Regions from separate parts of the Homo sapiens genome. Here regions 2 and 3 are each linked to region 1. The links come from fine-mapping of genetic effects on gene expression. A gene starts in region 1. Each other region holds a variant in brackets. All regions are shown on one strand. Distances are from middle to middle.

What was found. PIP is the estimated chance that this variant, and not a neighbour inherited with it, causes the effect.
Region 2: its variant is the best candidate, but not a certain one, in a credible set for the expression of TFCP2 in whole blood (TOPMed, PIP 0.68).
Region 3: its variant is the best candidate, but not a certain one, in a credible set for the expression of TFCP2 in whole blood (INTERVAL, PIP 0.71).

What each region holds. Positions count from the first base shown.
Region 1 is chr12:51,170,641-51,174,861 of GRCh38, forward strand. TFCP2 (transcription factor CP2) reads right to left here and starts at 2,495. Exons shown (of 15, transcript NM_005653.5): 1 at 1,661-2,495. The coding sequence starts at 1,782. It overlaps LOC124902933 (a long non-coding RNA gene), which reads left to right and starts at 3,915. Exons shown (of 2, transcript XR_007063307.1): 1 at 3,915-4,043. RefSeq lists enhancers at 1,778-1,827, 1,928-2,675, 2,768-2,817.
Region 2 is chr12:51,197,971-51,202,191 of GRCh38, forward strand. It overlaps POU6F1 (POU class 6 homeobox 1), which reads right to left. Exons shown (of 11, transcript NM_001330422.2): 4 at 1,777-1,898; 5 at 580-805; 6 at 1-53. Among named protein-coding and RNA genes, the nearest start is that of POU6F1, 18 kb to the right of the region's middle. RefSeq lists an enhancer at 1,844-2,343. The variant G/A (reference allele first, on the strand shown) is at 1,559.
Region 3 is chr12:50,954,066-50,958,286 of GRCh38, forward strand. HIGD1C (HIG1 hypoxia inducible domain family member 1C) reads left to right here. Exons shown (of 5, transcript NM_001109619.4): 3 at 1-27. It also overlaps a transcript of SLC11A2 not described here. Among named protein-coding and RNA genes, the nearest start is that of HIGD1C, 3.6 kb to the left of the region's middle. The variant C/T (reference allele first, on the strand shown) is at 2,437.

The DNA.
Region 1 (4,221 bases):
AAGTAAAGATTCCTGAAGATGCTGAAGTATTAAATTCTCTCCCCCTTTTTTTTTTTGAGACGGAGTTTTACTCTTGTTGCCTAAGCTGGAGTGCAATGATGCGATCTCTGCTCACTGCAACCTCCGCCTCCCGGTTCAAGCAATTCTCCTGCCTCAGCCTCCCAAGTAGCTGGGATTACAGGCGTGCGCCACCACACCCGTCTAATTTTTTGAATTTTTAGTAGAGACGGGGTTTCACCATGTTGGCCAGGCTGTTCTCGAACTCCTGACCTCGTGATCCGCCCACCTCAGCCTACCAAAGTGCTGGGATTACAGGCATGAGCCACCGTGCCCGGCCTGAAGTATTAAATTCTAACTCATAATTTTACTTCAGTGAGGTAAGTCTACTTTGAATTGGCAGGAATAAAGGAACTTTATATAACTCTTAAAAGATCTCATTATCAGAATGAAAAATGCATCTACTTTCCCCCTAAAAAGCATCTTTCCCCTATGAACTCATAAACCCAATGAAAATGTTAAGTTCTAGTCTCTTGACTCACTTATTTAGATTAAGTCTTAATAATGCATTAGGAAACCCAATTATAGTCCATCTACCCCTAAGATGCAGCTGTTTCAACATTTCCATACAGGATTCTTACACATCTATAAATGAAATAAACTATACTGGAGGAATGAAGCAGCCAATGCATGCAACAAGTTATATAGGCAATAATGTTGCTTTCAAAGGAGTTTTTGTTTTGTTTTGCTTTGTTTTTCAAATGGAGTCTCACTTTGTTGCCCAGGCTGGAGTGCAATGACACCATCTCTGCTCACTGCAACCTCCGCCTCCCGGGTTCAAGCGATTCTCCTGCCTCAGCCTCCCGAGTGGCTGGGATTACAGGCCCGCGCCACCACACCCGGCTAATTTTTGTATTTTTAGTAGAGACGGGGTTTCACCACGTTGGCCACGATGGTCTCGAACTCCTGAGCTCAAGTGATCCGCCCGCCTCAGCCTCCCAAAGCGCTGGGATTACAGGCGTGAGCCACCGCACCCGGCCGAAAGGAGATTTTTCATCTGTTATCAACAACTGGCTTGATACATAAAGATCCAGAAGCATCTTAAGTTTTCTTCGTCACTTTTTCATTTCACAGCTTATGTTTTAAAAGTCAGAAATCCCAGAATTAAGTAAAGTCTTAAAGCAAGCTAGTGGTAAGATAGAGCTGTACGGACTTCTTCATCAAGGACTTCCATATCTTTCCAACAAGAAACGAACCAATATTCATCATTAAGCACCAGCTCCCAATTTCCCAACTTCCTAGATACCATTCCTATGCTATATGTAACCCTTCTTCACACAACGTCAGACTTACCCACACATACACCATCAGTCCCCAAGTCTCCCACATTGGCACAAAAGCCTCTCAACATTCATCTGGTTACTAATCAGGGACCACTTCCTTCTTCCACTGATTCTGCACAGGCTTCATATCGCCTACAATCGCTTTTTCCATTTCTTCCACAACACTAACTACTCAAAGCGACAAAAGAACAAGTCCCTTTTCCCCAATCGTAAACAGCTTTTTAAAACTCTATACACCTCCTTCCCACTCAACCCCTTTTCTTAGTGTCTATCCGCCTTTGTTATTCAGAAGGTGTAGGGTCTGGGAAAATCTCACTCACCTCATGCTATAGGCACCAGCACCCAGTTCCTGGCCGATCCCGGACAGGCTAGCATCAAAGTCCTGCACCAACCCGGATTCAATCACTTCGTCGGCCAGAGGCAGCTTCAGAGCCCAGGCCATCCTGGCTCCTTCCTTGCCCCAGGAGACACCGTGTCTTGTACAAAGGCGCGGAGGGTAATTCTACCCAACAGGAGTAACGCAAACCAAGAAAACTACAAACCAAGGTTTCCCACGCAGTGCCCACCAGCCACCCCCAAGCCCGACCAGCACTGCTCTGTGCACAACTAATCTCCCGTACCCTTGGCTGCTCGTTCTTGGCTGCCCCAGGTTCCAAAATCCCCCCTGCCCAGCTCTCAGGAACGTGAGGACCCCTTTGCTCAACTACTGCAGACTTCCCAGAGGCAGCTCTGGACTCCCGCACTCCCACTCCTCTTGAGAGTTCGTAGTGGTGGCTTGCTGCTTCCCAGTCAGACCAGCAGCAGCCGCAGGAAGCCAGCCCGGCGCTCCCACGCTGCTTTTGCACCTTTTCCCCCGCCCCTTTCTGCTGGAGGCCCCCTCCCTCCCAGGTCTCGCTCTCTCTTTCCCCTCCAGGCCTCGCTTCCGGTCAGTCCCACGATCACTTCCGGTCACCCCTTCTCAACCCCACGGCTTAGAACCAAATCCAGGTTTCCGCTGAGCCGACTTCTCGCCCTCTGTAGCCCCCCACGGCCTGGAAACATGGAAGGAGAAAGTCCAGCACAGGCGTAAAACCTAGACTCGCCAGGCCCTTCCACCGTCCGCCGCCCCAGCGCCAACCAATCATGGCGTCCTCTTTCCTCGCCTGCCCGGCGAACATGACGTCACGCTGTCGTTCGCCTATAAAGAAGAGACCGCGTCAGTCTCGGCAGCGATGATAGGCGGGCTGCGCCACGGCTCTGCCCCCGAGATGGGCTGGGCGATCACGGGGAGGACCCGGCGTGCAAGTGTCCGGGTTTAAACGTGTATCCGTGTAGTTACCAGAGTTCTGGTATTCGCTACCCATCAAGTCGTCACCCTGAGCCATGGAAGGAGCCCTTCTTCTAGCCTTATGAACCCACTCCACCCCTGGCGGACTCTTGACGGCTTCCCAAACGCTCCTTACGTGTGTGCGCTTGCTCCTGCCCATACTCCTGTCTCCTTAAACTCACCTCTCCGGAGGTCAAGACCCTGCATAAGTCCCACTTCCCTGTATATTCATTTTATCTTCGGCATCCTCTCTAATGCATTTGAACAGAAAAGCATGAGATCAGTAAAAATGTGGTTTTTAGGCCGGGCGCGGTGGCTCACGCCTGTAATCCCAGCACTTTGGGAGGCCGAGGCGGGCGGATCACCTGAGGTCGGGAGTTCAAGACCAGCCTGACCAACATGGAGAAACCCCGTCTCTACTAAAAATACAAAAATTAGCTAGGTGTGGTGGCGCGGGCCTGTAATCCCAGCTACTCGGGAGGCTGAGGCAGGAGAATCTCTTGAACCCAGGAGGCGGAGGTTGCAGTGAGCCGAGATCGCGCCATTGCACTCCAGCCTGGGCAACAAAAGTGAAACTCCGTCTCAAAAAAAAAAAAAAAAAAAAAAAAAAAAAAAAAAAAAACAGTGGTTTTTAAAAGGTTGTTGTGCTGGTATGGGGTGTTGGAATTTAAAAGATCTGAAAATCAGAGTTTAGGCTGGCGTCTTCATTTGCTACTTTGGTGTCTTCAGAACAATTGCTTAATGTCACAGATTTAGCTTCCTCGTTTGTAAACGGGAGTGGGAGTAACTTTATCTGCTCCACCTTCCTCCTTTGAGGATTGAGTAATAATGGCCATTGTTTATTAAGTATCAACTACTGCTAGGAACTTTATTACACTATGAGTAGTCCTCAAAGCGATCTTGGAATTAGAATTATAAAGCTAAATTTAATGACTCTTATTTTATCAGTAAGAAACCAAGGCTAAGCCCTTAAATTGGCCGGAGCTAAATTGACATGCCAGCTTCAGAGCTGATTCCAAAGCCTGGCATTTTTCGTTACAAGACATTGCCTTTATGTGAAAGTCTTGGTTCATTGTTGTATTCCGTTGCTGAATTTTTTAAAATCTGCCTTGACTTATACTTTTGTATATATCTGCCTCTCTCACTAGATTGATCTAAAGAATAAGGAATAGGTCTTTTTCAGGCTTGCGTTCTAAATATCTCCTACTATAGTTCCTGCTTTCAACAGGACTTTTAAACATGTTTATTGAATTTAAAAAGGAATGAAAAAGGAATAAGAGAACCAAGAAAAAGAGAGAAGTTGACATGAAGATGGCAACATGTTGTGCTGGTATGGGGTGTTTCAGCCACAGGCATCTCTCTGAAGGCTCCAGGCTTAAACCTGCCGTCTTACCTTGGTAAGCCCTAGGATCAAAGTCTTAGCTCATTCTGGAGACATTCAGTATCTCTTTAAGCCATCTTTTCTTCCCATGAGCCAGTTCTATCTCAAAATGTGTGACTGTGGATAAAGGAATGGGTCCTGGGCTCATAGACAAAAAGAGAGATGTCACATGGAGATCTGAGGGCTCAAAGTTT
Region 2 (4,221 bases), 27 kb after region 1:
TGGTGCGGCAGCTTGTACCGGTGCCGGAAGAGCGGTGTTCAGCACAGCAGCTGCTATGGAGCAAGGCAGAGACAGAGGTGCTCAAATGCCTAGCCACTGCTCACAGCGGCTCCAATCCCAAGGGATCTGGCACAAGAAGGAGAGGGGGTTGGGGCAGTGGGCTCAGTGGGGCAGGCAGCCACGATTCCCTTGATCCTTGAAGGGCTGGCGCACGCCAGCATCTCTTATCCCCCCTCCCTGGGGCCAGGAGATGTGTAGGTTCAAGAACCAGACGTTGAATCTTCTTGTAGTCCTTCCCAGGAGGCCGGTCATGGGGTGAGTTCTGGCGTGGGGGGAGAGGGGCAGTCTCAGACAGCTGGCCGAAGTACGGCAGGCCTGCGGGGCCAGCGTGGCGTCACGGCCTACAGTCCCGAGGTGGTGCAGCAGCTCTGCGGCCGGATGCCCAAGACACCGGATCCAGACTCCAGGGCGGTTGCCCTGGGTGGGCCGTGGGTTCTGAGTCCGACATGGCAAGCACACGTGCGGGGGTGTAGTAGAGGGTGGGGGGCCTGGTGCAGTCCTGGGAAGAGTTGCCGTTACCTTGGAGACCGGCTAAAGGTGGCTTGAACACTCCCCCCGTAGGAGAAGCAGCGGTCAGTCCTGGGAGGGCAGCCACAGTTGCTGTAGGAATTGTCCACACGGCCAGCCCCTGCTGACCAGCCACTTGACCTGCAATACTGATGGGGATAAGAAGAGGTTGAGTAACTGCCCCTGCTGGAACCATAACTCCTGTCAGAACTGTGGCTAAGTTTTCCTGAGTCAAGACCTGCAAAAGCAAACAAGATTTCAAAAAGAAAAGAAAAAATAAAAAATCAACATTGACAGCGCAAACACTGGGTCTCTGAGACCCAGCTGAGCACAAACAAAGCATTCTGAGGGCGATGGGCCGAAGGCCACATGAGGATGGGGAAGAGCCAAACCCTAGCTGGAGGCCCAAACCTGAGGGGGTGCCTGGACCGACTATCCTGCCTTCAGAGAAGTCGCCTAAATCCAGGGCAAGGCGGCCCTGCTCACAGGATGGGAAGGGGGCACAGGCCTCCCCCACCACAGCCTGCTGCCTGCCAGGCCTTCCGCGAGCCCTTGCTGACAGGCCCCGTGCTTAGTGGCCAGGGAACAGGGAGCAGAGGCTGATGGAACCAAGTGGTCAAGGCCCCGCAGAGGCTAATGGAACCAAGTGGTCAAGGCCCCGCAGAGGCTAATGGAACCAAGTGGTCAAGGCCCCACAGAGGCCTCCGAGAAGTTTCTGAAGGACCATACCCTTGGCTGGATGCCTTGGAGTCAGGGAATGTAGCGAAAGGGACAGGGAGCTCTGCCTGCCTGCAGGATCCTGAAGGCAGCCTCTCATGGTGCTGGGGCCACTCCCTGGCTCTAAATGAGGACTCTGAACAATCCATTAACTCTTACAGGCATCCACTGGAGGGCCGGCAAGGGTATTCATTCATTTAGTCATTTGATAAACAGAAACTCTGGCTGCGTGAAAGAGTTAATGTTATTTCTGCAATCCTGGCAGGCCCAAGGA[G/A]ATGATTCTGCAAATGTAGATCCCCTTTTCCAAATGGGCCTGATCTAGGCAGGGGTGAGGCTGGATGTGCCTAGTGGGAGAGTCCCTCCCTCAAGCCATAGCCCCTTCCCTGTCCTGCCCCCATGAAGTTCCCAGATTCCATGGCTTCCCCATGCTGGCTGTCCCATGCCTCGCTCCTGCCCCCGGCCTTCTGTCCAGCTCCCGAGGGCAGCCCTTACCTGGGGGGCAGCTTGTACAGCCAGTGGCGTCAGGGTCTGCGATGCCTGAGGCTGGCTTGGGGCTTGGCTGAAGGTGGCAATGGCAGTGGCAGGGCTCGGAGGGATCCCCGGGGGTGACTTCACTTCACAAGGCATTGAGAGAAAGAAGGACAAGGAGTGAGCCTGACGTGAGTGGAGGGGTCACCACAGCAGTACATGACATCCCATCTGCAGCCTGAAGCGGGGACCCTCAGCCCCATGCTGCATTGCTACATAGCCCAAGACCAATTGTTGGTCTTCCCTGGCCCATGAGGCAGCTTCCTGAATGCTACGGTGGTGAGGACAGGAGGCTGGGGAGCCCTGTGCCAGCTCTGGGAGGTAGGCCACCCCTTCTCACATCTAGCTGAAGAAGATACCCAGGTGAGTGTTAGCCCTCATTTCCTGGCCCTGTAAGGACTGTCACATCATCAACAGAGGAGTCTGAAGCACACGTGTGTCAGGGAGGGCCGGAGCTAGAAATGATGGGAGCGGCTGTCCTTGGTTCATCCTGCCACTGAATCGCTGTTCATCCACCTCCAGGGTACTTTTGGATGCAGCTGCTGAAAGGGCAGGAGTTCCTGAAGGGCAAAGTCCTGGAAGCAACAGTCCCTGAAAATTGGACAGGTCTGTGCTGCACTACAGGATCACAGGGGCTCTCCAGGACAGCCAGCTTTTCTCTGCTATTCCCGGAGGTCTAAAGTCATGTGAGCAGCTTCAGTGAGCTTCTAAATGAATTTCCCGTGACCTGCAGCTTTTTGCCTTCTCTTGGTACCTTAGCCTACACACGTACTGGGGTACCCCACCAGGAAACTTCTTCACAGCCATACAACGAGGAGAAGGGTTATTATTTAATATATGGTTAGTTAAAAGGAGCCTAGGAGTTGAGTGATGGATATAGGACCAGATCACTGGCTTCTTTTTATTTTAATTTAATTTTTTTTGAGATGGAGTCTTGCTCTGTCACCCATGCTGGAGTGCAGTGGTGTGACTTCTGCTCACTGCAATCTCTGCCTCCGGGGCTCAAGGGGTTCTTCTGCTTCAGCCTCCCAAGCAGTTGAGATTACAGGCGCATACCACCACGCCTGGCTAATTTTTTTCTTGTATTTTTAGGAGAGATGGGTTTTCACCATGTTGGTCAGGCTAGTCTCGAACTCCTGACCTCAAGTGATGTGCCCGCCTCAGCCTCCCGAAGTGCTGGGATTACAGGCATGAGTCACCGCGCCTGGCCAGATCAATGGCTTCTTAAAACTGCTGGGCATATATTTCTAGGCTTTAATCCAGGCCTACTGAATCAGAATGTCCAGTAGTGGAGGCTAGTTACCTCACCTCTCTTTTTTCCTTCAAAGCTCCCCCTGCGATATGGCCAAGAGTGGGAACCACTGAATCAGATAACCGCAAAGGTTCTGTCCAACCCTGCAGTACTAGTCCATGTTTCAACTTGGGAAGGCGTCAACCTCAACTCAGGACTATACTGTTCACAGCATGCAATAATAAAACCCAGGTAGTTTAAGGAATTCAAGAGACAAGCACACACCAACAAAGGCCTTATGAAATAGTAAAAGAAAACAAAATGACAGGTTTATCTCCTCTGTGGAGGGAAGATACATTTCTAACTCCAGAAAAAAAATCAGGCTGGGTGCAGTAGCCCACGCCTGTAATCCCAGCACTTTGGGAGGCTGAGGTGGTAGCATCACTTGAAGCCAGGAGTTACCAGACCAGCCTGGGCAACAAAACAAGATGCTATCTCTACAGAAAAAATAAAAATGAGTTAAAAAAAAAACAAAAAAATTAGCAAACATAAGGAGAGTCTGAACATGTGAAAATTTTAAAAACATTTTGTTGGACAAAATGTGACAAAGCATAACAAGTAAGTGAGAAAATGGGAAAGTGACAAACATAAATGATGAAAGCTTACCCTCTAAAGAAGCAAAATATTCATTTTATTAGGGCATATTTAGTAGGACCATGGAGTCCAAGGTTTTACATACATTAGGGCTGCTATTGCTTCCTGCAAGACTGTACAGAAAGACTAAATGAACTCACAGAAACATCAACAATGTACCTGTTTCTCCACAGCACCACTCAATATAGTTGTTTTTTTTTTTTTTTTTCTGAGACAAGGTCTCACTCTATCACCCAGGCTGGAGTGCAGTGGCGCAATCTCGCCTCACTGTAACCTCCACTTCCCAAGCTCAAGTGATCCTCCCACATCAGCCTCCAGAGTAGCTGGAACTACAGGCATGTGCCACCACACCTGGCTAATTTTTGTATTTTTTTGTAGAGACAGAGTTTTGCCATGTTGCCCAGGCTGGTCTCGAACTCCTGAGCTCGAGCAATCCACATGCCTCAGCTTCCCAAAGTGCTGGGATTACAGTCGTGAGCCACCATGCCTGGCCACCAATATAGGTTTTATCATTGCTTATTTAT
Region 3 (4,221 bases), 220 kb before region 1:
CTAGAGACTCCCCCTTTGTCCCTATAGGTAAGTACAAGCCTTGACTGGATGCAGAAAACTGTAATAACACAATGATGCCTTACCCAGTGCCTTTGCGGATTGAAATGTTTCTTATAATTGAATTTTTTCAGATAATTGAAGCTAACCTCCTCTAAGCATGTGTTGAACTTTCAGAATAGTTCCTAATACATGGTAAGCCCCCAGTAAATGTTAGCTGTTATTTGAGGCATCAAATTTTATTCTATTTTATCCATTTCATTAGAAGTCTACCTAAAATTATTAGTTCCTAGCCAGTCAAATGGAATAGATTGAATGAATATTAACATTTCAGTCATAACTCAGGACCATCAACAGCAGCATCAGTTTATTATATTTAAAGCCTATTAGGGACTATTGAGATGCATATGTCTCTTTGTCTTGTAAGTAATCTAAACTTTAAGTTCTTACATCTTCTGTTTATAGATTTTTCTGTTTCTATCTTACTATTGGGCACATTAAAAACTTCTGCTTCTAGGCCGGGCACGGTGGCTCATGCCTGTAATCCCAGCGCTTTGGGAGGCCGAGGTGGGAGGATTGCTTGAGCTCAGGAGGTGCAGGTTGCGGTGAGCCAAGATCACACCACTGCACTTCAGCCTGGGTGACATAGTGAGACCCTGTCTCAAAAACAAACAAACAAATAAACAAAAAACCAAAAACTTCTGCATCTAATGTTTTTAATGCTCTGTAGCACCAGAAGCTAGATAACCAAGCTTGAAAGAACTGTGGGTCAATTCAGAGGAAAGCTCTGAGTAAAAGCCTGGATCTATCTGAACACTTGTGAGCATGAACTTTGGAGTGGTCATTTTGGCTGCTCAGTGGCCCTCTGTGCTGGCTTCTTGGTGTGCTCCAGGTGTTGAGTTTGATGGCAAAATAAATTCTGGACTAAAGAAGTGATACTATAATTAGGCCGGGCACAGTGGCTCACTCCTGTAATCCCAGCACTTTGAGAGGCCGAGGCAGGTGGATCACTTGAGGTCAGGAATTCAAGACCAGCCTGGCCAATAGGGTGAAACCCCATCTCTACTAAAAATACAAAAAGTTGGCTGGGCATTGTGGCACACACCTGTAATCCCAGCTACTCAGGAGGCTGAGGCACCAGAATCACTTGAACCCGGGAGGTAGAGGTTGGGTGCAGAGCGAGACTCCATCTCAAAAAATAAAAAAGAGAGATACTATAATTAGATCACCTAATAATCTGGACCCTTAGCCTCTTTATCCTTTCCCCACACATATTTAGTATGTTTACATTTTCAACAAGTATTATGTGTATGTGGACTTTAAAAAACCCCACAAAACCTAAGCACCAATATTATGTTTTGAAGTCTGAGCTTTCTCTTTCTTCTCCATGGATGTATACTGCAGCCATGCCTGTTTCCTTGTGTTCATTTTGTCTGGAAACTATTAAAATAGTTTACTTAAATCAGACTGACATAAGTTTGCAAAAATATTAATTCCATAAAAACTTCTAAATAGGTATGTCAGATGTTCCCGTTAAGTGTTACTCTGACTCTAGCAACTTCCTAAGTGTCATTATTCACATATCAAGAAAGAATCAAATTTTACTTTACAGTAATATTCTGTTTAGAAGTTTTAAGACTTATAATAGCACCCATAAGAAATGGAAGCAAATAATTTAATAGTGATTTATCTTCCTTAGCATTTTTAGTTAAAAAAAATTCGAAAACTCAATGCTACTTGAACAGATCACTATAATGAACAGAAATTAATTAATAAACAGAGACAAAGAGACATACGCACCACTGTGCCTGTTGTATATTAAATTATTTTTCCAGAGACATTTAGGATGATTAAAGTGGAAAGATAAAAGTGTTTCCAGCTAAATTCAATTATAAACAAACTAGAGACACTATATGGAAAACAGTAAAGGTTCTGACTTTAATCTCCAAAAGAAACAAAACCAATTTAAGTAAGAACAGAACTTTCATTTGATTAAGGGAATAGAGATAAGTTTTTGCTAAAAAATAAATAATGATAAAATTTGGTAGGCTGGGCACAGTGGCTCATGCCTGTAATCCCAACACTTTGGCAGGCCAAGGTGGGTGGATCACTTGAAATCAGGAGTTTGAGACCAGCCTGGCTAATGTGGTGAAACCCTGTCTCTACTAAAAATACAAAAATTAGCTGGGTGTGGTGGCAGGCGCCTGTAGTCCCAGCTCCTCAGGAGGCTGAGGCGGGAGAATCACTTGAACTCAGGAAGTGGAGGTTGCAGTGAGCCAAGATTGCGCCACTGCACTCCAGCCTGGGCAACAGAGCGAGACTCCATCTTAGAAAAAAAAATTGGATATATATCATTGAATAATTTGTTTAGCTATTGTCATTTTAACAATATCTACTATGTATTTTCCTGCTACAGGATGGAGGGTCCTATGCAGGTAA[C/T]TTACAAAACATTTTTTGTTGGTTATCTTAAGCAACTTCCATCATTATAAATATATTTACACTGTTCAAATCATCTTACAATCACTGTTAAGGTCTCTGCATGCATTATATCTATTTAAAGTATGTGTTGACAGATTATTTGGCTTTGCTTGTTTCACTTAACAGCTCATACGTGCATTTCTGTGTATTAATACTCCCTATTCTTATTTATTTTTATAGCAATGGCAGTTTTTCTTCTGTTTGGGTTATTTAGGTTTTCCTCAAACATAGTGTAGCCCTGAACATCTTTGTGTCATTTTCTTGATTTTTCTTTTGGTTATTTCCTTGGAGTATGTTCCCAGAAGTAGAATTTCCAGAGCAGGAAGCATGTTCAGTTTAATATCATTTGTTATATATTTCCAGAGTTCTTTCTAGAAGGACTTGGCCAAACTTACAGAGCTTTCAGGGTTTTACCTGTTTCCTCATATGTCTACCATCATCATTTTGTTATTTTTTTTTTTGCTGTTTTTATGTCTGTAGCACATTAGTCATTTTTATTTATTGTGGATCAGTGTATAAAATATACATGTAAATGTAATGATTTACTGATTCTTATTTCCATTTATTAAATGGATCATGAAAGAATAAATATATCCTTACCCACCCATAGACACACATATGCCAACATAGTTATTCCAAACATGCTATCCACATAAAAATTACTTGCTTTTTTTTCTTTTTTTTTTTAAAGACAGAGTTTCCCTCTGTCGCCCAGGCTGGAGCGCAATAGCACAATCCTGGCTCACTACAACCTCCACCTCCTGGGCTCAAGCGATTCTCGTGCTTCAGCTTCCTGAGTAAGCATGCGCCACCACACCTGGCTAATTTTTGTATTTTTAGTAGAGACAGGGTTTTACCATGTTGACCAGGCTGGTCTCAAACTCCTGACCTCAAGTGATCCATCAGTCTCAGCCTCCCAAAGTGCTGGGATTACAGGAATGAGCCACCATGCCCACCCAGCCTGCATTTCTTCTTTTAATCGATCCTTACATTTAGATTAAAATTTGCATTTCTATATACTAACAAGAAGCATCTGGAAACTGAAACTAAAAACATAATACCAACCAGGCATGGTGGCTCACGCCTATAATCCCAGCACTTTGGGAGGCCGAGGTGGGCAGACCACCTGAGGTAAGGAGTTCGAGACCAGCCTGGCCAACATGGCAAAACCCCATGTCTACTAAAAATACAAAAATTAGCCAGGTGTGGTGGCATGCACCTGTAATCCCAGCTACTCAAGAGGCTGAGACAGGAGAATCGCTTGAACCCTGGAGGTGGGGGTTGCAGTGAGCCGAGATCATGCCACTGCACTCCAGCCTTGGGCAACAGAGTGAGACCCTGTCTGAAGAAAAAAAACAAAACAAAAATGGAGAGACTACTGTATTCATGAATTGGAGGTGTGTGTGTGTGTGTGTGTGTGTGTGTGTGTGTGTGTGTGTGTGTGTAGTAGAGGCAGGGTTTTACCATTTTGGCCAGGCTGGTCCCGAACTTCTGACCTCAAGTGATATGCCTGCCTTGGCCTGCCAAAGTGCTGGCATTACAGGCATGAGCTACCATGCCTGATCCTGTGTTCCTGAATTGGAAGGCACTGTATATTGGTAAAGATGTCAATTCTCCCCAAGTTTATCTACAGGCTTAATGTAATTCCTGTCAAAACCCCAGCAAGGTTTTTGGTAGACATAGACAAACTTATTCTAAATCTTATATGGAAAGGCACAAGTCCTAGAAAAGCTAAAATAATCTTTT